6 linked regions of the Homo sapiens genome follow. The protein of the gene in region 1 purifies or fractionates together with the protein of each later gene. This does not show direct contact. Each region holds a gene or a part of one and is shown in the gene's direction. Other genes may lie near its edges.

Region 1 (4,710 bases):
CCTGCAAACAGAGCAGGCCAGAAGAGCCAGGGAATTCCTGTGCCCTGGGATTAGCCTTCAACCTGTGATTGGTGAAAGTTAGTTGATAAATTCCCTACTTTCTCACTCCTCAGACAGGATAACTGAGCCACTTGCCCTGACTTGTCCCTTAGGATTCCCCAGGGGGTTGAAGCTCCAGCTGCCCCCAGTGGAACTTGCTTGACAGTGCACCTCATGCTGGTGTCCTTCCCTTCCCTTTCTGAATTTCTTCCCTGCCAGTCCATCATGTTGTCACTGCCCAGGTTAAACTACCTGCACTTGAATCTTTATCTGAGGATCTGCTTAGGGGAGAACCAGAACCAAAATAATTCCAGAGCTTTCTGATCTGTTTGTGCCTGGTATACAGCTATCATCTCGAGGTCTCCTGAAGCAGAGGTCATTTCTTATCCAGACAGCATTGGGGTAGCAGCTTAACTAATGAAGAAAAAATTAACTGAAAGAAGATTCCTAGAGCTGAAGAAGCCAAAAGGGACTTTGCCCAAATGCTTCCTATTTATTGCTCTACTATGTTCTACACAACATACAGTCCCCACAGTATACCCTTTGTGAACAGGAATAGTTACCGTTGCTCCATTTTATCTTTTTCAAAATATAAACGGCAATTTTTGTTAGGATAAGAGTAAGACCCATTCAGTATAAGAATTAAAAAAAACAAGAAAAGTTTAAGGAAGAAAGTGACAATCACAGGGAATTTGAACATCAGAAATCAACATTGTAAATCTTTGTTCTGTATTCTTCTTGACATTTTTTTTTTCTGTAGACACGTACTTGACCATTCTTTAAAAAAAACATAATGGAATGGTTTCTGCTATTAACCTGCTTTTTCCATATATTATTTTCATACATTGTGGTCTATTTTCCATGCTAATAAATACATATAAGCAGTATATTTTTTAATGGTTGCATGGTATTTCTGTGTATTTATGTGCTATTATATACATGGTGCCATGAGTTAACATTCCCTTACAATCAACATTTAGGTTGTTTTCAGTGTTTTGCTATTATAAAGAATGTTGCAGTGAATGTCCTCTTTCACACATTTGTATTGTTGATGTTTCCTGAGGATGAATTCCTAGTCATGAACTACAGGGTGCTGTGGCAGGCGCATTGAAATTGCCCTTCAGAAAAGAAGTAGCAGCTTACACATTCGGCAATGCCATTACTTGCATGAAACAGATTCTTTAGTGACTTTCCTAAAGCAGTTGTTACTGATGGCCAGGGCTGGATTAGAATGTCATCATTTTATGTTCTACACAGTTCTACCAGCTGCATGCTCACTGTGGCTTACTGTAGCCAGAATCCTGTTGTGTTGCTGTTCATGTTCCAGAAAGCCAGGTGCCATTATTTTAATGTGAAGTGTGAAGATAGATACATTAAATAAGAATAATGGATCATATTTTATGTCAAGGAGGCTTAAAAGAGTGGGTAGTCTTAGAAATAGCATGATTTGCAACTCTGTAGTATCTCAAAATAGCTCACTTGCAGACATGCTAGGAGTTTTCTCTCTCTTTCCATTGTTGGGTAGTCATGATGCCACTTACTTAAATCCATATTGGGAACAAGGCTCATATTTTAAAAAGTCATGGTGACAGGTAAAGTCCCCTGTTGAAAGGTATGGACCTTATGAGGGGTATAGCCTTGGGTAAAATACCTAACCACCATGTACCTCAGTTTCTCCATCTGTAAAATATGCATAAGGATGGTAATTGCCTCAGAGGATGGTTGTGAGGACTTAACCAAGAAAATGCTTCCAAAGTGTGCTAGAACAGTGTCTGGCTCCATGACGTCAGTGATGAGTATTACTATATTAGGTAGCACCTGTTGGTGCTTACAAACCAGTGAGTTCATCAGAGTAGTCAGCTGACCAGGCTGGATGGACAGGAAGGATCAAGGTGGGGAGGCTGAGGGGGCAGAGGTACATAGGTTCAAACTGGGGAAGGTGTGGGGGATAAAGGTGAAGAAATGCTTAGAGACCCTGGAGAAGATGATGTTGGAAGGAGTTGCTAACCTGATAGGCTTGCTGTTATGAAAAAGTTTGAAAGTGACCATTAACAGGGATGCTAATGATATTTAAGAGACACATTTTCAGGAGTTACAACAATGTAAGTCAAAGGAGGAACAAAGTGATTTTCCCACTGTTAAGTGTAGGTCCGTTTGTAATCTCTTGAAAGCTGAAATCTTAAATTCCCAGCCCCTGACTCAAGTGTGACCAGTGTTACTTCCTGGGCAGAAAAATGGGAACTGTAAACCATTTCACAGGATGCAAATGGCATGGGAGAATATCATCAGGAACCTCTCAGTTGATTCTGGGATTGTGTACGTGACAAAATTAACAATGTTTCACAATTTAAAAATAAACCTCAAGATATCATTCGTGTTTTTATTATGCTTGTTTCTACTTGAAATTAAGCATTTTTAGCACCTGGAGCAATCAAAATTAAATTGAAGTTCATATTCATAAATCCATTTACAGCCCATTTCTCTACCCACCATAATTGCTGCCTCAGAGTCCACAAGTGCTGTGTGTGCTCTAGTAAGGGAATGTTTCCTAATGGGCTTTTCTTCTTTTTTTTTTTTTTTTTTTATTTTAGGAGTTGGAAAAACAACATTGATCCATAAAGCCAGTGAGGTTTTAAAATCCTCTGGTGTGCCTGTTGATGGATTTTATACCGAAGAAGTCAGACAGGGAGGGAGAAGAATAGGATTCGATGTCGTCACGTTGTCCGGCACCCGGGGGCCTTTATCGAGAGTTGGGTACTGATATTTCATTTCTGTGGTGTTCTATTATCTAAGCTCCCCTTCCATCTGTGCTTTGGGAGCTTTTCAACAAGAGCTAAATTCACCAAAAGCAGATACTCTGTTGGGTCCTTGGATGCCCATCTGCTTTCCCTTTAGGTTGAGAGTGTCTCCCTGGGCACAGGGTTGAGCCAAATGTTGTCATCTATCCTCAAGAATCTTAGGCCTTTAGGGATTTCTCAGAGAAAGAAAACAGAATGAAACCATCACATGAAAAAAGTATAAGAAAGTGATATTTTACTTAAAACTTGTTCACCAAGTCATAAACTCCTCTCACTTTATAATTCTTAGTCCTGTTTCTGGTGCCACTTTTCAAAGACTGTTGATGCAGTAGCTGCTTGGACCTTAAGAGATAGCCCTGCCATAACTGCAAGGCCCATTGTTGGAGGTGTGGACACTTTGAACAGGGTAGCTCTGTTCAAAGCAGAGAAAACCTGATCAGCTTTACAGACCACCGCATTTTGTGTTGGTCATTTTTAAGGATGATTTAGCATATGTGGAATGCCAGAGGCTCAGTGGAGCAGCTAAAAACCAGAAATCAATACAGGAGTTTTTCAACAAAGAACATAATGTCTTTTCCTTCAGGTTAGAGCCTCCACCTGGAAAACGTGAATGCCGAGTTGGGCAGTATGTGGTCGACCTGACTTCTTTTGAGCAGTTGGCACTACCCGTCTTGAGGAATGTGAGTACGTGATTTCTGCTTTTTGAACCCATCTGCTCTTAGTGTATTGTGGGAATTGCTAGCCATGGAAACAGAATGCCTTTTGCTCTTAAAGGCCCCAGTTTTGCATTTTACAATTGAAAAGATTGAGTCTTAATAAGGATAAACAACATAATTTGCTATCACTCTGAGCTACAGATAAATTCCTATAAATTCAGTACATATAAATATTTTATTTTGGAAAGGCTCTTGATGCCCAGGTACCAACATTCCCAAAGATAAGTCTTTCCTCTGTCTTCTCACAGTCATGTCTTAACCTGGTTTCACAGCACAACAAACATTTAGGAAGAGAAAATGTCATTATATGAACATAATAGCCAGTTGTTATTGAATGCCTACCAAGTACTGTAAGCAGTTAACGTATTATATTATTATATTACCTTTTTTAAAAAAGAAAAAAACTTTATTGACATCTTACGGCTTCTTTCTTTCTACTTTGAATGCCTTTTATTTCATTTGCTTGCCTAATTACCCTGGCTAGAACCTCCAGTCCAACATTGAATAAAAGTGGTGAGAGTAGACATCCTTATCTTATTCCTAATCTTAGAAAGAAAGTATTTAGTCTTTCACCATTATGTATGATGTTAACTGTGTCTTATTTGTATAGAGTTTACTCAGGCGTATTTTGTTGAGGATTTCTGCATCTTTATTCACAAAAGATATGGTCTGTAGCTTTCTTTTCTTGGGATATTGTTGTTTAGTTTTGGTATCAGGTTAATACTGGTCTAATAGAGTTAGGAAGTGTTTCCTTCTTTTCTAATTTTTGGAAGAGTTTGTGAATGATTCGTATTAATTTTTCTTTGAATAATTGATAGAATTCACTAGAGAAGCCATGTGGGCTAGGTTTTTCTTGGTGAGAAGCTTTTAAATTACCAATTAAATCTCTCCTTATAGGTCTGTTGATTTTGTATTTTTTTGTTGAATCAGTTGTGGTAATTTGTACCTTTTAGTAATTTGTCCATTTCATCTGAAGTATCTAAGTTATTGGCATATAGTTGTTCATAGATTCACCCATAATGCTTTTTATTTTGTAAGATTGGTGATATTGTCACTTCTTTCTTTATTTTAGTTATTTAAATCTTCTCTTTTTTCCTTGGTCAGTCTAAAAGTTTGTCAATTTAGATGATCTTTTCAAAGAACCAGCTTTTGTTTTA
Region 2 (4,340 bases), on another chromosome or scaffold:
AAATAAGCAGAAAATTATTTGAAAAATGTTTGCATATGTTACTTTCCACCATGTTTCTCTAGAAATAATAGACATAAATGATAATTGAATTGTGATTCAAGACTAGTTTGTCAGTAATTTGCAATATGCACTTATGTTTTTGTTTCTTTTAAAATAAAGGCGCCTACTGGCTGAAGCAGCTCTTCAGAAACTGGATCTATACACTGCAGAGCAAGCATTTGTGCGCTGCAAAGATTACCAAGGCATTAAGTTTGTGAAGCGCTTGGGCAAACTACTGAGTGAGTCAATGAAACAGGCTGAAGTTGTTGGCTACTTCGGCAGGTTTGAAGAGGCTGAAAGAACGTATCTCGAGATGGACAGAAGGTAAGTTATGAAGGCGCAGGCATCCCTGAGTACTCTATCAGTTCATCATTGTATTTTTTACAAATGGAAACTATAAATACGTTAGGTGTATCATATGGTTCCTTTTAGAAATTAATTTTAAGTTTGGATTACAACCTAGATATTCTACATGCCTCTCATTCATTTGTGTTTCATAGTCTGGAGGCAGTTTTCTTCTCTGTTTTTACATCTAATAATGGCTGACTCTGGGAGGTTTTTTTTTCATTTGATGGGAAAAAATGATAGAACAACAGAGACTGGGATCTTTTATATTTAAGACATAGCTCATTATTCCAGTTCTTTCTTTCTTTGTTTGTTTAGGCCATTATTTAATTTTATGTTGTCAAGAGGCATAAAATAAAAATCAGAAGTCGTTAGGGATCGAGATTAGTTCTTTATATTTCGTTTTTGATTTATATAAAATAATGTATGAACTTCATAAATATTTCTTCTTTTGAATTAAAGAACTGTAAGGCCTGTCTCCCTGGCCAGGAATCAAACCCAGGCAGCTGCTATGAAAGCAGATAATCTTAGCCACTGAACCACAAGGCGGAGAGTCTGTCTGAACTTCATTTCAGCTGTTAAGATTGTATCTCATCTTCATTAATGTTATTTATACTCCCAGGAGATCTCTAATATGACTTAGGCTCTGAAAAGTCATATAAAACCACATGTGTTAACACTGTGTTTTGTTTTGAAATAAACCTGATCACATCTAAGAAATTGCTGAAAAGAAATGATTGTTATTTAAATCATTATTTTGCTAAATAAATTGAAAGTCCAGGAAAGTAAAGGCACAACATTCTTTTCCCTGTTCTGGTATCTTAGACCATTTGGGGTGCTATAACAAGATACCTGAGACTGGATAATTTATAAAGAACAGAAATATTTTTCTCACAGTTCTGGAGACTAGGAAGTCTAAGATCAAGGCGTCAACAAGTTTGGTGTCTGTTGAGGGCCCTGTCTCACTTTCAAGATGGTGCTTTGAATGTTATGCCTTTACATGGTGGAAAGTGAAAAGGGCAAAAGGGGCAAATTCTCTGAGGAGTCTTTTATGAGGGCATTAATCAATTCATAAGGGCAGACATAATGACTTCCCAGAAACCCCACCTCTTAATACTACCACAATGGAGATTAAGTTTTAACATGAATTTTGGAGGGGACACACATTCAAACCATAACCTCCAGGTGCTCCTCATTTCCTCTTAGCTAGTCAGGCTAAGTTCCTAAAGTGTTTGGAGAGTCACATTGTCCACTGCTGTGTAGCCTCAGCACCTAGAACTGTACCTAACACACAGCAGGCTCTTGGTAAATATTTGTCAAATAGATGAATGAATGAATGAATGCCTTTGTTTGTAGGGATCTTGCTATTGGCCTCCGGCTGAAATTGGGGGATTGGTTTAGAGTACTCCAGCTCCTGAAAACTGGATCTGGTGATGCAGATGACAGTCTCCTGGAACAAGCCAACAATGCCATTGGAGACTACTTTGCTGATCGACAAAAGTGGTATGTAACTTACCTGGAGCTCCTCAAGCATTCATGCAACACTTAGTAGCTGCCTGAGTACTTCTCTAGGAAGTAATCCTGGGGAAATGAAGATCATTTTCTTGAATTCTAAAATTCAGATAGCTCTAGATTCATCTTGGAAAGCCGGAGATCCTGTGAAGTTGTGAGATGAGCACTATAAAAATTTGTAGTGTATAAACACAAAACTTGTACTTAGCTCCATGCAGCTTTCTGTTTGAGCCTACAGTATATAATTCTAAGGTGTTTTATGTTTTATTTTTGAACAAAGTTTAATAAGTGTTTTTATTTGCTTTATTATATATTATTTTCAGAAATCATTGGCTTTTCTTTTCATTTTGATTAGTATGCTTATTTATGTCAGTGTTTGGGAGTAAAGCGGTGGTATTTCTTAAGAATAGTCAAGGAATGTTACAACTAGAATATGCTTTAGATTTTTTTCCCCATTTATATGTTTGAAAGTTATTCTGAAGCTGAAGATAATGAACAGTAATACTAGTACTGGGAATTATGATGAAGGAACATTTTGGTTGAAAGTGCTTATTTATCAGGAGATTCACATTAGTTTTAAAAGTTTTTCCTTTTTTCTTTCTGTAGGTTGAATGCTGTACAATATTATGTACAAGGACGGAACCAGGAACGCTTAGCTGAATGTTACTATATGTTAGAGGATTATGAAGGGTTAGAGAACCTTGCCATTTCACTTCCAGAAAACCACAAGTTACTTCCAGTAGGTATTGCAAATTTTAGTTTTTGGAATTGTTAGGTTACTTTATAAAATTTTATGTTATAGTCAGGAAATATCTCCCACAATAAAGAAAATTAAAAATCTATAATGTTACAGTTTCTTAGACATGGAATGATGCTTTTAATTATAAAGTAATATATAAATAATATAGAATGCTTGAAAATGGAGGAGGAAAAGTCAGTCACATTCTTACTACTTTAATATGATCACAGTCTTGTGTAGTCTGTTAAGATTTATAAAGTTACTTTTTAAATGTTAGCTGAATACATGAAATATTTACAGATGAAATGATATGTTGCTAGGGATTTGCTTCAAAATAATCTGAAATTGTTTGAAATTTGCTATAACTTAAGTTTAAAAAGATAGCTCAACTTTTATTATGTTATATTAACAATAAAGTATTTCAAGTTAAAAGAGAAATGGAAAGAGTTCTCTTGCTTTCAAATGTTCTTTTAGAGCCTCTTAATTAATTGTTGAATACTGTAAATAAGTTTGTATTTTATGTGTTTAATATGTGAATCACTGAGCCGTACAATACTTGTAGAGCTAGCAGCTCTCAACTGCAGAGTCTGGATGTATATCAGTTGTGAGTTCTGCTTCAAAAATTTTGCCTATTAGTTAATAGATAAGTATAGAATTACGGTAATTCAGTTTTCCCTATTGTGAATTTGAGCGGCTATCTCTGTAATAATGGTATTTTCACTCACCCTTATTTTCAATCCTATGGGTTTTCTTGAGTAGGAAAGAAACTGAAATTACTTAGAACCCTGGGTATAGGGAAGAGTGTATACTCCGTTAGTGTTGTCTGTTAGATGTGTCTGATGATGCCGATAAACATTTTGCTGTAGGGTATCCAGAATAGTAATATTCCTGAGTAAATGCTAAGTAATTATAACTATAATGATAATTAAATAACTAAAATAGTAAAAATTTTAGTATTATAAATTTTAAATAGAGTTATAGAAGAATTTTTAATAATATGGGAAGGTGTACATAATATTTAAGTAGGAAATACAGGATACAAAATTGTGTATTGTGTGATTGTGTACAACACAAACATATACATATATATTCAAAGGACAAAGATGTTAAGAAATTGCACCAGAGTATTGAGAGAGGTTTCTTATGAATGATAAGATTATGAGTAATTTCACTTTTTCATGTTTTGTAATTTTTTTTACAGATAGAATGTATTCCCTTATAATCAGAAAAATATAAGCATTGTTTTAAAAGTTGGATATAAAATATACTTTCATACTTCCAAACATATTGTAGAAGGGTTGGGGAGGGAAAACCTCTGGCTAATTAGATATTCTGAAAGAAAAAAAATGATGTTCTGAAAATGGCCAGTGCAGCTGAACAAGTAGGATTTTTTTTTGTGGTGGTGGTGGTGGTGGTGGTGGTGGTGGTGGTGGTGGTGGTGGTGGTTCTTCCTCGCTGCCACCACTTTCCAAGAGAGCTCTGTTTTGGGTCTAGCTTCCTGAACTGATTAATGGCAGACTTCTCTAGGACATTTCTTTATAGAGGTATTTGAGGGCTCTGTGAATGTGAGATTTCCCTTAAGTCTCTAGTTAATAATTAGCACTGAGTATACCACCAATTGATATAAAGGCTTTTTTCACCCACTGGTGGGGGATTTGTTTTGGAGCTTGACATTTCTGTATACTAGCTACTGAACTGAGATAAG
Region 3 (5,371 bases), on another chromosome or scaffold:
TCTGGCCACTGGCCGGTGAGAAGGGCCGGGCTGATCATCTGGGTACATATGAATCTCAGAGCGCTCGGCAGAAAAGAAAGAGGCCGGAAAGGAGAGAAAATGAGTCGCCTCCTGATTCCGGAGCTTTAGGTCCCCAGCACCCCCACATCCTTGTGGCCTCCATTTGTACATGTTTATAGCAAGTGACAGCTAGTTTATGAACCCATGGGCACTTAAGACCCAGCTCAGCCGGCAGTACCTCCGTTCAACGGTCCCGCGGACTCTGCAATCTACGGGACCGGGAGAAGGAATCTTGCAGCAAGCGCTTCCCTCCAGCATCTGCCGGCTCTTAGGAGAGAAAACTCCCGGCAGGAGAGAGACGGGTGGACGCTGGGAGGGCTTGGAGACCAAGCCTCCGGCTCAAAAACAAATGAGACTCAGCTCTAGATGTTCTTTAACTGCTCGCGGGGTCCAAGAGTTTATTTTAGCTGAGAGTTGAGCCTACTTTTGCCTTCTTGAAATTACACTTCTGGTACCTCCTTCACACAGCAATTACCGCTGACCCCAGAAAGTGCTCTGTCGACTCTGCTTAACCTTTGGGAAGAAGAAAACTTGGAAAAAGTCTAGCTCTCAAAATGCTATCGCTGAGAAGTGGCTTAAAACGTACGGACACAGGCTTTGGTGGCCCCAACGCCTTAAAAAGAAAATGAGAAAATTTTCCCCTTGAAAAATTGAATCATTTAATGTAAAACCAGGTTAAACAAGGCACATGCCTCCTTCATGGGTCCAGACATTTCTGGGAGTCTCCTGAGACCTGTCTCCGTGGCTCTGAGGGTCAACCAAGCCTTCTGGCATCAGGCAGGCTGAAAGCTTGCCTGGTTTCCCCAATGGTGAGTGGGTTTTTAAAGGGCCAACTTGTGGACTGCTGAGCGGCTATACCCCACACCCCCCTACATCTTGCCTTCTGAGTTTGCCTTAATTAGGGAATGGGGAAGTAGGGTTGGGGGCCCGAGTTCACGTCAAAACTGTCAAAGGAGGTGGGGGAGGGGGACAGAGAGAGAGGAGTGGAGAACTCCCTCCAGGGGCAGGAAAAATTCAAAAATCATAAAAGGAAAAGGGGGAACTTGAAGCCCAGAAGTCATTGTTTCCTTTATTTCAAAGGGAAAAACCTGCCCGATTCTCATCCTTTTGATTGATTAAGGCCCTGAATACCTCGCGGCCCCGGAGTGACAGTCCCTGAATAGGCTCGAGCGAATAAAGCGCAGTGCAGAGCGCGGGGCTGGCACTCGGGGGTGTAAAGGAGGCGAGTTCGCTGGCACTTACCAAGTTATAAATAAAAGGCTATGCACAATGGTACCTTCTCTAAGGACAGACAGTCTTTACAACACTCCTGGCGTCATATCCTGCTGGGGACACTTCAGCTCCTAGCCAAGACTTCGTTCCTTTTATTTTTCCAGCAGTTTAGTCTGAATGCCATAATAAATTCCTGAGAACAAACGCTGAACCCGGGCAAAACTTTAACATACAGACACATCTCTGTCGACGCATCGGGGATCTATATGTAGAGATTTAGAACCGCAGCTTGCCAGAGCGGTTTTTACACCAAGAAGAGGAGCCAGGTTTTTTTCTGCACCCTCCCCCATACCCCCAGCCTTCAACTAACGAGTGCTTGGGCCTAGCGACGGCTGCCTGTGCTTCACATTAGCCCCGCTTGCGGACGGAGAAGACAAAAGAACATCAGCGCACCCTGGACTCCTCCCAGGAGGAGCCCCATCGGGAGGACCCCTTAACAAGCCTAGGCCAAGGGGCACTGACCACAGGAAGGAAAGCTAAATATGTCTGGGGCCCCAGATGCCTTCTTATTGGAATTGTGCCCCCTCCAGTGGCAGTAAGCCAAGAGAAATGAGAGCGAGACCTACAGGTAGAAAAAATGAGACATAGAGAGAGACACAGGAAATCACAAGAGGAATAGAGGCTGAGCGAGACACACACACAGAGGCACAGAAAGAGACAGAGAGGGAAATAGAAAGTCAAGGAAAGAGTGATCAGAGAAAGACACACACACACACACACACACACACACACACACACACACACACACACACAGAGTGACACAGACAGAGAGACAGAGACAGAGAGACAGGAACTTCTCCGCCCTCAGCAACTGCCATCTCCCTGGGGCTGTCTCTCTCAGTTTCCACCGGGCCAACCTTCTCTCCTGGGCAAGGGGCGCAGCGCGGGTCCCCCTCGGGGCCAGCAGAGGCCTCGGCACCACCAGAGATGGGAAGAGAAAGTGGTCGCTGTTGCCCAATCAGCGCGTGTCTCCGCCACCCGGGACGGTCTACCCGTCGGCCAATCGCAGCTCAGGGCTCCTGACCAAGCTTTGGGTAAAAGAACTAATAAATGCTCCCGAGCCCGGATCCCCGCACTCGGTGTCACCACAGGAGGAGACTCAGGCAGGCCGCGCTCCAGCCTCACCAGGCTCCCCGGCTCGCCGTGGCTCTCTGAGCCCCCTTTTCAGGGACCCCAGTCGCTGGAACATTTGCCCAGACTCGTACCAAACTTTTCCGCCCTGGGCTCGGGATCCTGGACTCCGGGGCCTCCCCGTCCTCCCCTTTCCCGGGTTCCAGCTCCGGCCTCTGGACTAGGAACCGACAGCCCCCCTCCCCGCGTCCCTCCCTCTCTCTCCAGCCGTTTTGGGGAGGGGCTCTCCACGCTCCGGATAGTTCCCGAGGGTCATCCGCGCCGCACTCGCCTTTCCGTTTCGCCTTCACCTGGATATAATTTCCGAGCGAAGCTGCCCCCAGGATGACCACGCTGGCCGGCGCTGTGCCCAGGATGATGCGGCCGGGCCCGGGGCAGAACTACCCGCGTAGCGGGTTCCCGCTGGAAGGTAAGGGAGGGCCTCAGCGCGCCGCCTGGATCCCAGGGCCTGGGACCGGCTGCCTCACCCCATCCCCAGGCTCCGCAGGCTCCTTTGGTGCTTCCAGGAAGCCCATTCCCTGGGCACCCCACACCCCAAGAAGCACCAGTCGGGGGCGAGGACCTACTCGATTTCCTTTCTGCAAATGGAGCGCGCTGCTCTCTGCAAATCCTGGCGGAGCTGGGCGGTCAGGCCTGCGGCGAGCCGGGGAGACTTGTCCCTGTTGTTTTGGAAATGCCGCGGTGGAGAAGGAGGTGAACCGGCTTCTGAGCGGCAGAAGCAACTTCTCCGCAATTTGTCCATTCGAAATTGTCTCGAAGTTGTCTCGAAATTGTCCCGGCTGCGCCCACACTTGTGAAACATATGTTAGTTCAGGAAGTATTTTTTTTTTTTTGCCCTGCAAAGTTGTGGTGGCTAACGCCGCGCCATTGTGATTGGAATTTTTAGAATAATTAAATAAATTAGAATTCTATGTATCTCAAATAGCATCTAGAAGTTTCTATAACTTGTTTAGGAATCGCCTTTCCGTCCACTTGAAGATTCTGGGAATCCCGGGGAGGCAGGAAGTCTTGCAAGCCTGAGCCGTTTTCAATGGTTTTCCAGGTTAGGGCGCCCCAGCAGAGATGCTCATCGCCCCCGCCACCCACTCCCTTCACACCCAGCCTAGAGTAGAATGTAACACCCAGAGCAAGAATGGGGGCTGGGGGCCCAGGAACAGCCCTGCCGCTGCTGTGGTCTCTGTCCCAAGATGTAACAGGTGACACAGGCACTGCTGCTTGGGCCTCCTTTCTGGACCCTCTTTGACCCTTGGCTGCTGCACTTTTGGCTAGAAACCCCAAGGGCTATCAGCTGGCCCAAGTCCCTTAGAAAGGGAGAGATCCCAATTGGACAGGGATCGGTGGGAGCAGAGTTCATCAAGGCCAGCTCCTGGGTGAACTTCTCTTCGCCAGGAGGCTGTTTCTAGAGCAAGCTAGACTCTCTACCAGCTGCAGGGTCTCCTAAGTTGCCACTCCCCGGGCCCGAAGGGGAAGACGCTTTCTCTGGGGAGAATTATTTTGCCCCATTTGCTGTCTTTACACAAGATTACATGCGCTATATTGCTGAATAATTTGAACAAATGTGATTGAAAGGAGGTCTGGGTCTGGGAGTCCGATGTCGAGCAGTTTCAGCGTCGGTGCTGTAACATGAGGATAGGACAGAAGACTGCGAAATTACGTGCTGCTGTTCTTTGCTTTTTATTTTCCTCCAGTGACTTTTCCCTTGCTTCTCTTTTTCACCTTCCCACAGTGTCCACTCCCCTCGGCCAGGGCCGCGTCAACCAGCTCGGCGGTGTTTTTATCAACGGCAGGCCGCTGCCCAACCACATCCGCCACAAGATCGTGGAGATGGCCCACCACGGCATCCGGCCCTGCGTCATCTCGCGCCAGCTGCGCGTGTCCCACGGCTGCGTCTCCAAGATCCTGTGCAGGTACCAGGAGACTGGCTCCATACGTCCTGGTGCCATCGGCGGCAGCAAGCCCAAGGTGAGCGGGCGGGCCTTGCCCTCCTGGCTCCCAGACTGTGGTCCCCTGTGTTGGGGAAGACCGGGCGGGGGGTAACGGCTGACATCTGGGGCTCTCCAATGAGTTATTTCTGAGGTTTGTGAAGGTGCGTAAAGGCGCGCGTGTGTGTGTGTACGTGTGCACGCGCCCTGGACACTTCTTGATGAACACTTAGGGAAAGCTCTTGCCTTTTTGCAAAGGAAAAATAACATCTGTTTTTTAAAGCCCATAAGCCTTGCAATCCTCATCAAATTATTTTAATGGATAAACACCTAAAGCAGGCAAGCTCTATGTGCCCACCTGTTGCCGATTTCTTCCCTAAGTGTCTTCCCGGCTCCCACCCATGGCACCGTCCTTTCCAAAACGAATGTAAGGAACTTCTTTAGGTTTTATAATGGTTTGTCTCCCAAACCCCGCCCTCAGTCTCCCCCAGTGCAAATTGTTTTCAATGAGTCAAATACTAGGGTGATCAGTTTTCTTTGTAATAAGCCAATGACTCCATTAAAAAAAAATAAGCAGTTTGGTGCTATCCTTAAATTATTTTTGGTTCTGTTTTTAAAAAGAAAGAGTCACACCAGCTAGGGCTGAGTGGGAGGGAATTACACAAGGTCTGTCTTTTCTTCTAGTTGCCACCGGGCAAAATCAAGAGGGTTATGGTAAACCGAAGACCTCCAAACACCCTCCTCTTCCTTCCCACCTACTGAAACACTTTCACAGCCTTTCTAAGAATCTTTGGAACCTTCTTCTTCTTTTTAAAAAATATATATTGGGGGTAGAGAGAAGAGTCAGTCTCTCTTAATTAATATTTGTTATCGACTCGAAGTTTTAAAAACCCAAATACATACCTTTACATTTCAGTCTTCACTTTAGCATAAATATCCCTTTGGAAAAGCACAAGTTGCAGATTTAACTTGATTTTTCAGCTCCT
Region 4 (4,710 bases), on another chromosome or scaffold:
TTTAATAGATGCCGTTAACCAGATTGAGGAAGTTGTTTTTTGTTCCAAGTCTGCTAAGAGGTTTTATCATGAGTGGGTATTGATTTTGGACAGATGCTTTTTTGAATTGATTGGATGCTCAGATGGTGTTTTTATTAATGTGGTGAATTACACTGATTTTAAAATGTTAGGCCAACCTTGTGTTCTTGGGATAAACTCCACTTGGTTATGATGTATTATCCTTTTTTATATATTGCTGGATTAGATTTGTTAATATTACACTAAGCATTTGTTGCCTGTGTTTATGAGGTCTACAGGTCAGTTACATTCTTTTCTGGTAATGTCTTTATCAAGTTGCTGTGTCAAAATTGTGCTAACTTCATAAGATTACTCATGCGCTGCATAACGATGTTTGGGTCAACAATGGGCTGCATATATGACAGTGGTCTCGTAAGATTATAATGGAGCTGAAAAATTCCCATTGCCTAGTGACATCATAGCTGTCATGACATGGTAGCGCAACACATTCCTCACGTGTTTGTGATGATGCTGGTATAAATATACCTACTGTGCTGCCAGTCATGTGAAAGTATATCATATATATTAATAGTTATATATACATAATACTTGATAATAAAAATGACTATGCTACTATAATTACTGCACTATACTTTTTATCATTTTAGAGGGTAGTCTTTCTACTTATAAAAAAAGTTGACTGTAAAATAGCCTCAGGCAGCCCTTAGGAGATATTTCAAAAGAAGGCATTGTTATCATAAGAGATGACAGCTTCATGTGTGTTACTGCCCCTGAAGAAGACCTTCCAGTGGGACAAAATGTGGAGGTGGAAGACAATGATCATTGATGATCCTGACCCTGTGTAGGCCGAGGCTAATGTGTGTTTGGGTCTTAGCTTTCAACAAAAAAAGTTTAAAAAGTAAATAAAAAATTTTTAAAATAGAAAAAGGCCTATAGAATAGGGATATAAAGAAGAAAATATTTTTGTACAGCTGTACAATTTTTTGTGTTTTAAGCTGTGTTATTACAAAAGAGCCAAAAAGTTATAAAATTGAAAATACAGTTAAAGTAAGCTGTTTATTATTGAAGAAAGAAAAACATTTTAAAATAAATTTAGTGTTGCCTGAGTATCCAGTGTTGATAAAGTCTACAGTAGTGTACAGTAACATCCTAGGGCCTTCACATTTCACTCACCGCTCACTCACTGACTCAGCCAGAGCAACTTTCAGTACTGAAAGCCCCATTCGTGGTAAGTGCCCTATACATGTGTACCATTTTTAATCTTTTTTATACAGTATTTTTACTGTATCTTTTCTCTTTTTAGATGTTTAAATACACAAATACCGTTGTGTTACAGTTGCCTACAGTATTGAGTACAGTAACAATGATGTACAGGTTTGTAGCCTAGGAGCATAGACTATACCATCTAGGTTTGTGTGAGTATACTCTGTGATGTTCACACAGTGAAGTCACCTAACAATGCATTTCTCAAAATATGTCCCTGTCATTAAGTGATCCATGACCGCAGTTGGGAGAAGTTTCCTCTGTTTTCTGAAGGAGTTTATATATACGTGTATATTTTTCAAATGTTTAATAAAATTTACCAGTGAATCCAGGGCTGGATTTTATTTGTGGGAAAGGTTTTTATTGTGAATTTGATTTAACTAGAGCTGTTCAAATTCTCTAGTTCTTCTTGGATCAGTTTTGACTGAGTTGTGTTTTTAAAACTCAGTCAAAATTTGATCTAAATTGTTGAGTTTATTGGCATAAACCCGTTCATTATATAACTTTATTCTTCGAGTTTGTAGAACCTGTACTCGATACAGATTTCTTTACTGTTTCATTCCTGATTGATAATTTATATTTTTCTGTTTTCAAAATGGGTTTTATAAAAGGCTTATTAATAAAATTAATCTCCCAAAAATAACAACTTTGGCTTTGTTAATTTTCTCTTATTTTTTATCTCACTGATTTCTGCTCTTATCTTTATTGTTTCCTTTTACTTTGGGTTTAATTGTTCTTTTTCTAGTTCAAGGTAGAAAGGAAAGTTGGTATTTAAAGTTATATAGGACATAAGGTACTTGATGGCAAAGATTATGTCTTGTATATATTTGTTTCTCTAACATTCAGTAGGCCTTTGATAAATTACTTGTTGGTTGCATGAGGAGTGTGATGGAGTATCCATTCATCCAGAGGAGCTAAATAATGTCATGATGGAGTCTAGGATTTTTTTTATTATTATTATGTCATTAGAATCACCTTAAAAGGATATCTCTGCCTTTGCTCATATTGTTCTTTCTCTTTAAAATATGTTTCCCCTTTCTACATGATGAACTTCTACTTAGCTTTTAAGTTTTCCAAATATGAATTATATTCCATAACATTTTATTTGTCCAGTTAAATCTACCACATTGCCTTATAGCCAGTGGTGTTTGCCAGAGCTTCTTGAAAACAGTATTTTCTTCTGTATTGTTGCATTCTCAATGGCTAGCAAAGAGCCTTGTATGTATGTAGTAGCTGCTTATTTAATGCTTGTTGGATAATTGAAAGGCCAATCAGGGAAGTAAGAAGGAATTTGGAAAGATTCTTGATAACCTGGTTGTAGCTTCCAGCAGTCTCTAGAGAACTCTAGAACTTTTTTATTCAAGTCACCTCATGAAGTGACTTAGTTGTGGTCAGTTAGCAGAGTATCCTTAACAAGAGTCCTTCTTGGACTATTTGGCCGTCCTTTTCTACCCTCTGGAATTAAGACCACGAGTTATAAAGCAAAACCCATAAGAGCATGTGAATACTTACATTTTTGTTCTGTGTAACACGCTTAATTTATTTCTGGATGGCAACAGGGGGAAGCGAGTAGCATTATCTGATGATGAGACAAAGGAAACTGAAAACATGAGGAAAAAGAGGAGAAGAATCAAACTTCCTGAATCTGATAGCAGTGAAGATGAAGGTGGGCATTACCATTCATTTTGGGTTAGGGGGATCAATTTTACTTTCAATGTTCAAGGAGCTAAAAAAGTAATGGATTAAGGATCACAATGAGAGTAGTAATTCTAGCATTAAGAGACACCATAGCACCTCTTTCTGTTTGAAATCTGCATTAGCCTTTTGACTAGAACCATGATCTTTTGGAAATTTGTCAAAATAACACAGAAGGAAAGAGGATAAGAATTATTATTATACATATTATCTAAGACTTTTTCTTTTCTTTTCTTTTTTTTTTTTACTTTTAAGGGGAGGATATTCCTTTAGCTACCTTCATGTGAATCTTTTAAAAATTGTGACGTTCTAGGCAGCCAGGGTATTACTGGTGGTGGTCCACACAGGTAAAACTAGGGTTAACTGGAACAACCTACAGTGTCATTGTTAGAAGGGAATGACACTGTGGACCCTTCTAGTTTTAGGCTGTGGGCAATGTTGTAAGATAAGCAAACCTCATAAGGGCAAGAGTTTTACCGGGAACATTAATATGCTTTTAAAAAAATATCAAGTATTTTGAAGAGCCAAGATCTTGCCCCAAATTGTATAAAGTATATAGAAAAAGAAGGAGGCTAAAAAGAAAGTTAAATGGGTTGAACTGATATGCTGGACGACTCTACCTTGAAAAGCCCACTTTGAGACACAGTGGTGAAAAGTTTGAACTGCTCTAATCAATTGTCCATGAATTCATGGCATAATGGGTATAAAACATTTTAAGTAATGAGGGGAAATCTAGTCCAAAGGATTTCAGCATCACATAAAGATACAGAGACAAACACGAACAGATACTAAAAGGGAGAGTAAAGAAGAATAATGAATGCAAAAAAGGAACCTACTGAGCTATCAAAGGACAAACTTGTAAGATTCTGAAACTTGTAAGATTCTGCTTTTTCCAGAAACTACTCTAAGAGGAATTGAAAATGGTAAGAGAGGCTTCCGAAAAAAGGATATTAGCTCAACTATACAAGTGAGTGAAAAAAAAACAAATTATATATACAGTTGACAGTAATGCAAAAGAAATGAACAGACCCAAGAAATAGTAGCAGGAAGCTGAATCTGTGATAAAGGTGTAGCATCTTTGACACTTCTGTGGATTTAGATTCTACCATTCATGCTATGTGTTTAGAATTACAGCCTGTGATATCCTGTGAGAGGTACAATGTCCTTCCGTGGGTTTTAGTGGCTCTTTAGAATGGGTAGGAGTAAGACACGTGAGCATCCCAGAGAGGCAAATGCTGTATTTTCATTCCATTGTCATTTATCAAAATGCTTTGGCCAAGGCTGCTGAAAGGAACAACTCCATGTAGACACATGGGAAAATAATTAGGAAGTAAATGTAGGAATAGGTGCTAATTGGAACAGTCTTCCCTATTTCCAATCAGTAAAAGACCTTGGGAAGATTTTGGAAAGGTCTTTGAAGCTATCAACTAGATACTCTAGTATTAGTAAAGGAGTCAGTTCTAAGTTAAGGAATGACTATGGTTGGTTGAGCACTCATTATATCCTTCTGAAATATTCCCTATAGTTCTGATCTGTAGCCTACAAAAATAATACTGTTGGGTGATTAGAAATGTGAGTGGGGTTATTTAGTTTTGAAAGGAATGTGAAGAAATGCAATAGAGGTACACAGCCTATAATAACAGATGATATAGAGCAGAAGCTCTTAGATTTTTTTCCTCTGGCAAAGATAATTTTTGGCATCTGACTAAATTTATAAACCTCTGACATTTTATT
Region 5 (4,710 bases), on another chromosome or scaffold:
TTTGGAATAATAGCAAGAATCATGTTAAATAGACCATTTCCTGTTTATAACTATGTTGTTACCTTAATCAAATTACTCTCGTTATTTTCCATCAAGATATAAAATGAAAATAATGACCAGGCACAGGGGCTCACACCTGTAATCCCAGTACTTTAGGAGACTGAGGCAGAGGATCGCTTAAGCCCTGGAATTCGAGGTTATAGTGAACTATAATCATTTGAGCCCAGGAGTGTGAGGTTATAGCCAAGTATAATCGCACCACCGCACTCCAGCCTGGGCGGCAGAGCCAGACCTTGTCTCAAAAAAAAAAAAAAAAAGAAAAGAAAGAAAGAAAAGAAAATAACATTTCTTATTCACCACTTTAGAATTCTATCTTTCCCTTTTTTACAATCCTATATCTACCCAATCACTCAATTTATCTAGCTATAACTTTGCTGCTTTTCTTTTTTTGAAACAGGGTCTCTCTGTGTTTCCCAAGCTGGAGTACAGTGACACAAACATGGCTCACTGCAGCCTTTACCTCCCGGGCTCAAGTAATCTTCCCACTTCAGCCTCCTGAGTAGCTGAGTAGCATGTGCATGCCACCACGCCCAGCTCATTTTTTTTTCTTTTTTTTTTGGTAGAGATGGGACCTTGCCATGTTGCTCAGGCTGGAGTGCAGTGGCGCGATCTTGGCTTACTGCAACCTCTGCCTCCCAGGTTCAAGCGATTCTCCTGCCTCAGCCTCCCAAGTAGCTGGGATTACAGGCATGCACCACCATGCCCAGCTAATTTTTGTATTTTTTAGTAGAGACGGGGTTTCTCCATGTTGGTCAAGCTGGTCCCGAACTCCTGACCTCAGGTGATCCGCTTGCCTCGGCCTCCCAAAGTGCTGGGATTACAGGTGTAAGCCACTGCGCCCAGCCACTTTGTTTCTTATCAATACCTTCTTGTCCTCTCTGTCAATCTAAAATAATCTTTCAAAAGTTGATCATACAAATTATGTCTCGATTCCAGATGTGATTCATTTGTAAAGGTGCGTGGCGAGTTTGTTTTATCAAAAGGCAGGGTTCTTTATAGGACTGAAGAAAATCTGCTAACTTAAGTATGATTATATTTAATGTAGTATATGAAAATGGTATTAAAAGTAAAATTTTAAATTTTACCGTCCCCTCAACCACAGCAAAAAAATTGAAGTTAACATTACCCATGCAGTGAATAATGAGTTGTATTTCTCACTTTAGAGAGTTTATTATCTGTTCAAAATAGATTGAATAATCTTGTTATAGACAAAAATCACAAATAGTAATTTTACTTTAAAAAACTGTATAGTGGTATTTTGCTCTCTTTTTTAAAAGTAACTGTGTTGCCATGGATTGGGATAAAGATGGAGATGTCCTAGCAGTGATTGCTGAGAAATCTAGCTGCATTTATCTTTGGGATGCCAACACAAATAAGACCAGCCAGTTAGACAATGGCATGAGGTAAGATAACTTTTTAATTTTTTAAAGCTTCACTTAGAAACATGAATATTTGTAGGTTTGGTGCTAACAATTCTTTACTACTTTCATTTTAAAGATTCCTCAATGAGTTATTTTCATAGAAAAGGATTATTTTTATTATTGTTACCCAATTAGAATGAAATTGTTATAACTGTGAATTATAAATAGCTTCTTAAAAAGTTGCTTTCAGTGGAACAGACTAAGAAGTGCAGAGATGAGACAAAATATATATGGGAAAATCCAGAGATGGGCTTGACCATAGGCATGGCTAGATCTAGGAGTTATAATGGTGCAATCAAGACTTTTTCTCCATCTCTCAGCTCCTCTTTTCTCTATATTGACTTTATTCTAAATCAGATTCTCACCCACGACTACTGGTAGCTATCAGTATGTATCATTCTTCACAGCAAGTCATGCCAGAGAAAAGAGCATGTGCCTTGACATCACCAGAGCCCATTCAGTTCCTCAGCAGGTCTCTGAGTGGAGTAGGCAGGGCCATGGATTGGTACTCCCACCAAGTGAAAGGAAGAGCAAAGGGCAGGGCAGTTCCCAAATGGAAAAAAATCTTGGGCAGACAGAATAAATGACAGATATCTGCTAAAAGAGAAACCAGTTTCCAATATGGAAAAGAAAAACTTGTCAGCATTTCCAACTAAAACTTTGCCATTTTGACCTTGGACAAATTGCTTAACCCCTCTCCAAGCCTCAATTTCTTCATCTGTATGACATGGGTATAACATGCTTCATGGCTTCATGTACCCCTCATGTGGGGAGGAAGAGATCATATACACGCTATGAGACCAGACTATAAGTTTTCAAGTTATTTACTAAGGAATAACTGAACCCAGAGAAAGCAAGGCAGTCATGTAGCGCAGGATCAGATACAACCTAGTGAGTGTAGTGCCTTTGACCCTCCAAAGTGACCGTTGAGGCAAGTAGCTGCAGAAGATACTGTCTACCAATGTAAAGTCTTCCTGAGTCTAAGAACCTTCATTTCTTGCTCTGTCCTCTTACACTTTGGGTTTACATCACTTTTCAGAAAGATTTTATATACTCTCTGTGCTTCCATTCAAGGGAAAGTTTAATAAACTTCAAGTACTGGTTCTTGAGCCAAATTCAGCAACAGTAAGGCCATGTTCTCACTCAGAGCAAAGTGCATAATTAATCCCCTGGTGTTTCTAACTGGTCTATCTCTGCCTCCAGCTCTCTGTCTTCCCACAGTGTCTGTTTCTCCACATCATCTCAGGATTGTTGTGATGTTTAAATATATGTCATGGCCAGGCATAAAATTAAGACCCAAGTAAATGGTAGATGTTATCGTAATTGTCATTAAAATAAAATTAAGGTTGCTTTACTGTTGATGTTTATATTTAATGTCTAAAGGACTTTTGTATATACAAAAGCATACCCACTGTTTGTTCTTTATTCAAAGGTCAATCTGTTACACTAGCTAGTTATTAAACAAAACTTGGAATATCAATTTTTCTTAAGTATTTTTATTTAAGAAGGTCCTGTTGTACATGACCACCTTGCTTCCTCTGGGTTGTTATTCCTTAGTAAATAAATGCTTTTAAGCAATTTAGGTTTTATAAAATTTATCTGAAGTGAGTCTTTTGAGCACTTCAAACACCTGAAATAGTACCCAAAACCTATCCAAATGTAATTATCACAAAACTTACTGTGGTGCCACTTAACTAAAAATATATTAATTCAATGAGCTGAATTCATTTATTTTTGCTATGTATGCATTTATACTCTTTTAGAATTATAGCGGTATTTACTCTGCTCCTGCCTAGGCCTAACAGAAGTAGTCATTTAATTATGTAACTGGGATATAGCCATTTCTTTCCAGAGAAAACCCTATACATAACATCTGCTTCATCAACCAGTTCATTCTTGGATGGATCACAGAACATGGTTGCTTCTCCCAAGGCAATTTGGACCTGAGTACTAGGTATCCTACTCAGTGTCTTTTTAAATTGACCTTGAGTTGTCGTATTAGTAAAATTCTTTTAAGCCCATGCCTTATACATAGGTTGCAATTTTTTGTAACCTGTACATTTCCCTAGCATGATATATTCTTTAAATTTTGCTTGGCCAGAGATACATGTAATTGTTATATGTTGTCCTGATCCAATGGCATTATTGGAAATTTACATATGCTTTAGTATCATATTGTAATTTGCAAGGGTTTCTACGGGCCTTATATCCTAAGAGAATAGGGATGGAGTCTGTTCAGTTAGCTCTTCTTTTGAGAACATTTGATTACTTGATCTTCTTAGAACACATTATTTAACACTTTCTTTCTAGTTGGTTGTTGAGTAACTGTCAGTGCTGATAAACTATTGAATGGACTAATGTTATATTTATCTTATTATATATGATCACTGTTGCTGATCAGATCTTGTTCTTGTTATACAGTTTTCTCTGATACTATTTTTAGCTCATGCAAAATTATTTTTATTCATATTTTCTTTGAAGGAGTCTCCAAGACAGGATTAACTGTGTAAGAGATTTCTTACAGGAAATGCCTATGAGGGAACATAGAGAGGTTAGAAGAGATTGGAAGAGCTGTTAGACCTCAGTGCATGTCTGACCCTTATAAATGAGAGAGGGAAAGAAGTAAGGTTGGGAAGAAGTGTCTTAAATTGTAGCACAGTTGTTTTTTGTTTGTTTGTTTGTTTGTTTGGAACGGAGGCTCCCTCTTTTGCCCAGGCTGGAGTGCAGTGGCTTGATCTTGGCTCACTGCAACCTCTACCTCCCGGGTCAAAGCGATTCTCCTGCCTCAGCCTCCCAAGTAGCTCGGTGCCCACCACCACGCCCAGCTAAATTTTGTATTTTTAGTAGAGATGGGGTTCCACCATCTTGGCCAGGCTGGTCTCGAACTCCTGACCTCAGATGATCTGCCCACCTGAGCCTCCCAAAGTGCTAGGATTATAGGCGTGAGCCACCGTGCCCAGCCCATTAAATTGTAGCACAGTTCTAATTAAGAAAGTTCAGCTAGGTCTGTGGGGAGTCTTTGGGCAAAAGTTACCTGTCAAAGGAGTTCTGCCCAGGAATGGGCCCAGCAGTTATCCCTCCCTCACTCAGTCATTGTCTGGGAACAGCCCATGAGAAAGCACAGCCCAGCTCATTGAGGTGATGGATTCCAAAGCCTAGCAGCTGGGGCTCATGGGCAGTTACACTTTCTGCAAACGGAGGGAAATCTGAGAGGCACATTATTGCGGCT
Region 6 (4,710 bases), on another chromosome or scaffold:
CTATGGACCCTGGAGAGGGCTTGGCAGGTGTGGCTGCTCCCGACCTGCCTTCAGTGGGGGACAGGGTTGGGGCCCTGACCCAGTTAGGTTGGGGCAAGGGGCTGGACTGTCCCTGACCCGTGTTCCTGCTCAGAGCTGGCACAACCGACCAAGGCAGAAGCTCTGAGAGGGGCATGGGAAGCCTGAGCATCATGGCCACTCCTCCCAGGCCCTGGACCCTCACATGCAGCACTGCCACCATGCTCTCGTCCCCTGCCATTCTCTGCCCTCTGACCCTGGCTCCCTGAGGGACTCCCGTACCCCGACACATTGCAGTCTCAAGCCATGGGGCCTAGGTCAGAGTTGGCCTGAGGTCTTCCAGGGAGAAACAGTGAGACCCAGGGAGGCAGGACAGGCAGCCACCCCACCCCTGCCTAATACTGTGCTTTGGAGACCTCGTCATCCCCTTTCAGAGCCCCTGAAGGCTGTCTTGATTGTCCCAGCCCTGAACCCAGCTCAGCCCAATCTGCTGAAAGTTTACAGGACTGGACAGGCCAAGGGTGTGGTTCTAGGGACAGAAAGTACTATCTACATACTCTAGGAGTATGTAGAGATTGAGGGACCCACCCCTGTGCTGGGAAGGCTGATCAAGGTGATGGCCACCAGGAGGGTGGGAGGTTCCTGCTCAAGTACCAAAAGCCCAAGTCACACAAGGCAGTGGGGCATAGGGTGGGAAAAGGCCTGGATAGGAGGATGTGAACCACAGAGGGGGAGAGGTGGAAGCTGGAGAAGCAGGTTCTGGTTGGACCAGCAGCCTGGAATGCTGCTCAGCAGTTGAGCCTTTATGGGGAGGGGTTAGACACGGTCAAATTTGGGCTTTCAGGTGCTCAGTAGAGCTGCAGCTGGCAGGAAGACTCACATTTTGAGTGACTAGCTTGACTGAGGGGCAGAAGAGAGGAAGACAGTATTGGGACATTTTTGAAGGCAGCTAGGGGTCTCTGTGGGGCCACTGAGGCAAGGATCGGGGCCCGCATGGTCCTCATGGGCTGGCTTGCTAGCAATCATGAGTGGTCCTGGCCTAGAACTAAGGTCTGGCTTTTAGCATCCTCAAAGGTACACTGAAGACAAAGTAGTAGATAAGGCATCCCCTGTGGGGCCTCCTGTTTCCCCATCTGCAATGGGAGAGGTTCAGAAGAAATGGTCCAGGGCCCCTGGCCACCTCTGCTGTCTCAGGATCTGGGTATTTTGGGCTCCTTGCTGATTGTTCGGGAGGAGGCTGCCAGCAGGAGAGGGTGGAGAGGTCAATAAATGTAACTGACAGACAAAATGTCATGGTTGTGTGGGTCTGCACCATGGTGGCCCTGGCACCTCTCTGAGTTGTCTGGGCTTCAGATCTGCACTAAACTGTACCAGGGAGTTCCCCAATCACAGGGTGGACGGCTGCTCTGCCTAGGTTTTTTGGGGATCTGGCTCAGGTCTGCTGCAGTCAGGCCTCTTGCCCTGGGGCCATTCAGGCCTTGCCCGTGGTCTGGGCCCATAGGCTGCAAAAATTAGCCATCCATCCAAAGATAGTTCTGGAGGTCCTTGGGTATGAGGCCCATGGCCCCTGGGGAGCAGCCTGAGGCCTGCTGAGTGCTGACTGTGATGTGTCCCTTGCCTCTTCATCCTTTTCCACTCTAGCTCCCCCTGTCCACCTCTCTGACTCTAGGAAAGAAGGCTGCCTTTTGGACTCAGCTGGTTAGGAGCTCCATATGGGGCCAGCCTGGAGGAGCTCCTGTATAAGCCACAACCCACCCCTGGCCCCTGGGAGGGGCTTAGAGATTAGAGCAGATACGGGCTAGGCTAGGATTTATCAGCTGTGTTCCTGAGCGAAGAGAACTGCAGAGTTCAGATGAGGTGGCCAGGACATGGCGGGCGGCGGGGCGGGACAAAGGTATGGCTGAGTCTTCTACATCGACCCCTGTGGCCTGAGGCCTTGCGCGCAGGTCAGGGAGCTGTGGGTGCCTTAAGTGAAGGGTACTGCAGCAGCAGGATCAGAACCCTCACCTGGATAAGAGCTCTTCCAGGCGCCAACCTCATGCTTGTAAAACTAGTCTTGGCCCACAAGCCCCACCCAGGACAGGTGACTCCACCCCTCTGTAACAGGTCCCACCCTCTGTGCAGGCCAGGTCGCTTGCAGCCTCTCTCACTGGGGCCCAGGGTGCCCCGGCCCCCCCACATCCCTGCGGTCTGCCGGGAGGAAGCGGTCCCCCTCCCCCACCGTGACTCTGCGCTTCCTGCCCCAGCCCCGGGGCGGGAGGAGACATTTCCCGTTCACACCAAAGTTTTCCTGGCAGCGCCTAGACCTGGGCTTAGCCACTGCCCCTCTTGCCCATGGAACCAGCTCTGGGGCCTGGGGTCCAGGTAACCAGCAAGGGTGGGTGGAGGTTCCCGGGGCAAGGCAGGGCCGCACATGAGGATGTGCGCATGTCTGGGTCTGCCTGTCTAATGGTACACGTGTGTCCTGGGATCCACAGTTAAAGAAGGCTACTGAAGGTGGTGGCTGCTGGGCTGGGTGAAGATGGCAGATGAGGACCCAGCCCAAGGCTCTTGGTAGGGGGTGGCTGCTGTGTGGGACACCTTCTCCAGCCCTAGCACCAGTGTGGGCCACAGCCACACCCCACTTACGCCCCTCCCCTGGCTGTGTCAGACCTGCCTAGGACTGCAGGCATTAGGGAGGTGGGAGCAGAAACTGGGAGGCTGAGAGAAGCAGTGGGGTGCCTGGAAAAGTGGTCAGTATGTACCTAACTCTCTGATGCTGACCTTCCAATGTCCTGCCCTCCCTCCCCCGTCCCCCACTCCCCTTCTCCACACCCTCCACTCTGCCTTTAACCCCTTGTCCATGCCCTCTGTCCACCTCCATTCATTCTTCGCCTCTGTCTACATCCCCTTGTCCCTGCCCTGTTTACTGCATCCCTCCTGCCCCCCACCACTGTTCCCCTGTTCTGCCTACAGAAGGACCTGGGTTACCTGCAGCAGTGGCTGAAGGCCTTTGTAGGTGCCTTCAAGAAGAGCATCTCACTGTCCTCTCTGGAGCCACGAAGGTGAGGCTGGATCTGCACTGAGGGCAGGGACAGAGCAGGGAGATTGAGGGGTCCTCAGCACCCGTGTCTCCCCTTTCCTTGCAGGCCAGAGGAGGCAGGTGCAGAGGTCCCGCTGCTACCACTGGATGAGCTGCATGTGCTGGCCGAACAGCTGCACCAGGCTGACCTGGAGCAAGCCCTCCTGCTGCTCAAGCTCTTCATCATTCTCTGCAGGTGTCTCTGTTGTCCACTCTACAAGCAGGGGCCTAGAACTGTGGGCCAGAGGGAGAGGGGACAAGGAGGGGCATGGTGTATTATTGTGACCTCTCTCATCATTGACTCCCCCAGGAACCTGGAGAACATAGAGGCAGGCCGGGGCCAAGTGCTAGTGCCCCGAGTGCTGGCACTGTTGACCAAGTTGGTGGCGGAGGTGAAGTGGCCTCTACCTTGGGGGGCAGAGGGTGTATGCAGGGAGGCAGGCGGTAGCCATGGCGGGGCTAACCCTCTCTCCCCACACCTACAGCTGAAAGGATGCCCACCACCCCAGGGCCGAGGCACGCAGTTGGAGAATGTGGCCCTACATGCTCTGCTTCTCTGCGAGGGCCTCTTTGACCCTTACCAAACCTGGCGGCGCCAGCGCAGTGGGTGAGACCCAGCCCACAGGAAGGGAACCCAGAGGAGGGTGGGGAGAGGATGGCCGCGCTGGGCCCAAGGAGGGGTGACGGCCAGGAGTGGTGAGAGCCGGGCTGATGTACTTGGCCTCACTGCCCCCAGGGAAGTCATCAGCTCCAAGGAGAAGAGCAAATACAAGTTCCCTCCTGCTGCTTTGCCCCAGGAATTCAGCGCCTTCTTCCAAGGTCAGGCCCCGCCCCTGCCCCCACTTGGCTCCACCCCCAAACCTAGGCCCCTTCCTGTCGTTCCTTGATCCTGCCATACACAGGAACCACTTGGTGGTGGCTGCATGCAGGACTGGGAGAACCAAAGACCAAGCAAGAGTTTAGGGACAGAGACAAGAGAAGACATCTTGGGCTGGAGCGAGGGCCTCCCATCAGGTGGAGGGGTGGGGTCAACCTGCCTACCCAGATTTCTCATCCTCTTTCCCCGCCATCTCCTGGATCCTTCTAGCCACTTGTACCCTACTGTGATCTTAAAACTCTCTGGTCCAATCCCTTTGTCCCCATAGCCTCCACGCATCTCCACCCATCCCGGAGACACAGGAGGTATCTCCACCTCCTGTTCCCTGGCTGCTGGAGGATCTGGTGCCCAGGACAGCTGTGGCTGCCTGTTCACAGGTGGTCCTGTGAACCTGTTCTCCCTGGTGACCCTCCACCCCTGGGTCCCCTCTCTCCTCTCATTGGAGGGAGACTGGCCAGGACTTTAGATAGGCTCAGGGTGGGATATGGCCTGGACAGAGGTGGGCAGGGCTGTGAAAAGGTGGTGACCTATTGGGATATTAAATGTCTCAGTGATGCCCCCATGGAGCTGTGGGCCTGGATCTAGAGTTGGGGCAGCAACTCCAGGAGGGGAGGCACCCCTAGGGAGCTCCTCGACTTTATTTTCCCATAGCCTGGGTGCTGTTATTAAAACAAACTGGATTTCATTTCTCCTCCCATCATATCCCTTGATGTCAACCTGACGTCCTCAAGATGAAATCCTACTCCTCCCACAG

Evidence for each region.
Region 2: the proteins of NTPCR (region 1) and WDR35 purify together in Homo sapiens (affinity purification with mass spectrometry; one large-scale study listed by BioGRID and IntAct). This does not show direct contact.
Region 3: the proteins of NTPCR (region 1) and PAX3 purify together in Homo sapiens (affinity purification with mass spectrometry; one large-scale study listed by BioGRID and IntAct). This does not show direct contact.
Region 4: the proteins of NTPCR (region 1) and POLD3 purify together in Homo sapiens (tandem affinity purification; one large-scale study listed by IntAct). This does not show direct contact.
Region 5: the proteins of NTPCR (region 1) and WDR19 purify together in Homo sapiens (affinity purification with mass spectrometry; one large-scale study listed by BioGRID and IntAct). This does not show direct contact.
Region 6: the proteins of NTPCR (region 1) and NBEAL2 purify together in Homo sapiens (tandem affinity purification; one large-scale study listed by IntAct). This does not show direct contact.

Annotation. Positions count from the first base shown.
Region 1 is NC_000001.11:232,952,927-232,957,636, forward strand, and holds part of NTPCR (cancer-related nucleoside-triphosphatase), read left to right. Parts: intron 1-2,630; coding exon 2,631-2,793; intron 2,794-3,420; coding exon 3,421-3,517; coding exon of another isoform or gene 3,518-3,521; intron 3,522-4,710. UniProt on the Homo sapiens protein: Has nucleotide phosphatase activity towards ATP, GTP, CTP, TTP and UTP. Hydrolyzes nucleoside diphosphates with lower efficiency.
Region 2 is NC_000002.12:19,933,766-19,938,105, reverse strand, and holds part of WDR35 (WD repeat-containing protein 35), read left to right. Parts: intron 1-159; coding exon 160-363; intron 364-1,740; coding exon 1,741-1,887; intron 1,888-2,502; coding exon 2,503-2,635; intron 2,636-4,340. UniProt on the Homo sapiens protein: As a component of the IFT complex A (IFT-A), a complex required for retrograde ciliary transport and entry into cilia of G protein-coupled receptors (GPCRs), it is involved in ciliogenesis and ciliary protein trafficking.
Region 3 is NC_000002.12:222,296,032-222,301,402, reverse strand, and holds the start of PAX3 (paired box protein Pax-3), read left to right. Parts: upstream 1-2,404; 5' UTR 2,405-2,787; coding exon 2,788-2,872; intron 2,873-3,029; exon of another isoform or gene 3,030-3,256; intron 3,257-4,189; coding exon 4,190-4,425; intron 4,426-5,371. UniProt on the Homo sapiens protein: Transcription factor that may regulate cell proliferation, migration and apoptosis. Involved in neural development and myogenesis. Transcriptional activator of MITF, acting synergistically with SOX10.
Region 4 is NC_000011.10:74,626,377-74,631,086, forward strand, and holds part of POLD3 (DNA polymerase delta subunit 3), read left to right. Parts: intron 1-2,838; coding exon of another isoform or gene 2,839-2,840; coding exon 2,841-2,947; intron 2,948-4,710. UniProt on the Homo sapiens protein: Accessory component of both the DNA polymerase delta complex and the DNA polymerase zeta complex.
Region 5 is NC_000004.12:39,188,319-39,193,028, forward strand, and holds part of WDR19 (WD repeat-containing protein 19), read left to right. Parts: intron 1-1,337; coding exon 1,338-1,463; intron 1,464-4,710. UniProt on the Homo sapiens protein: As component of the IFT complex A (IFT-A), a complex required for retrograde ciliary transport and entry into cilia of G protein-coupled receptors (GPCRs), it is involved in cilia function and/or assembly.
Region 6 is NC_000003.12:46,985,696-46,990,405, forward strand, and holds part of NBEAL2 (neurobeachin-like protein 2), read left to right. Parts: intron 1-2,294; exon of another isoform or gene 2,295-2,352; coding exon of another isoform or gene 2,353-2,382; intron 2,383-2,666; exon of another isoform or gene 2,667-2,750; intron 2,751-2,973; coding exon 2,974-3,062; intron 3,063-3,146; coding exon 3,147-3,275; intron 3,276-3,389; coding exon 3,390-3,471; intron 3,472-3,564; coding exon 3,565-3,686; intron 3,687-3,815; coding exon 3,816-3,898; intron 3,899-3,973; exon of another isoform or gene 3,974-4,710. UniProt on the Homo sapiens protein: Probably involved in thrombopoiesis. Plays a role in the development or secretion of alpha-granules, that contain several growth factors important for platelet biogenesis.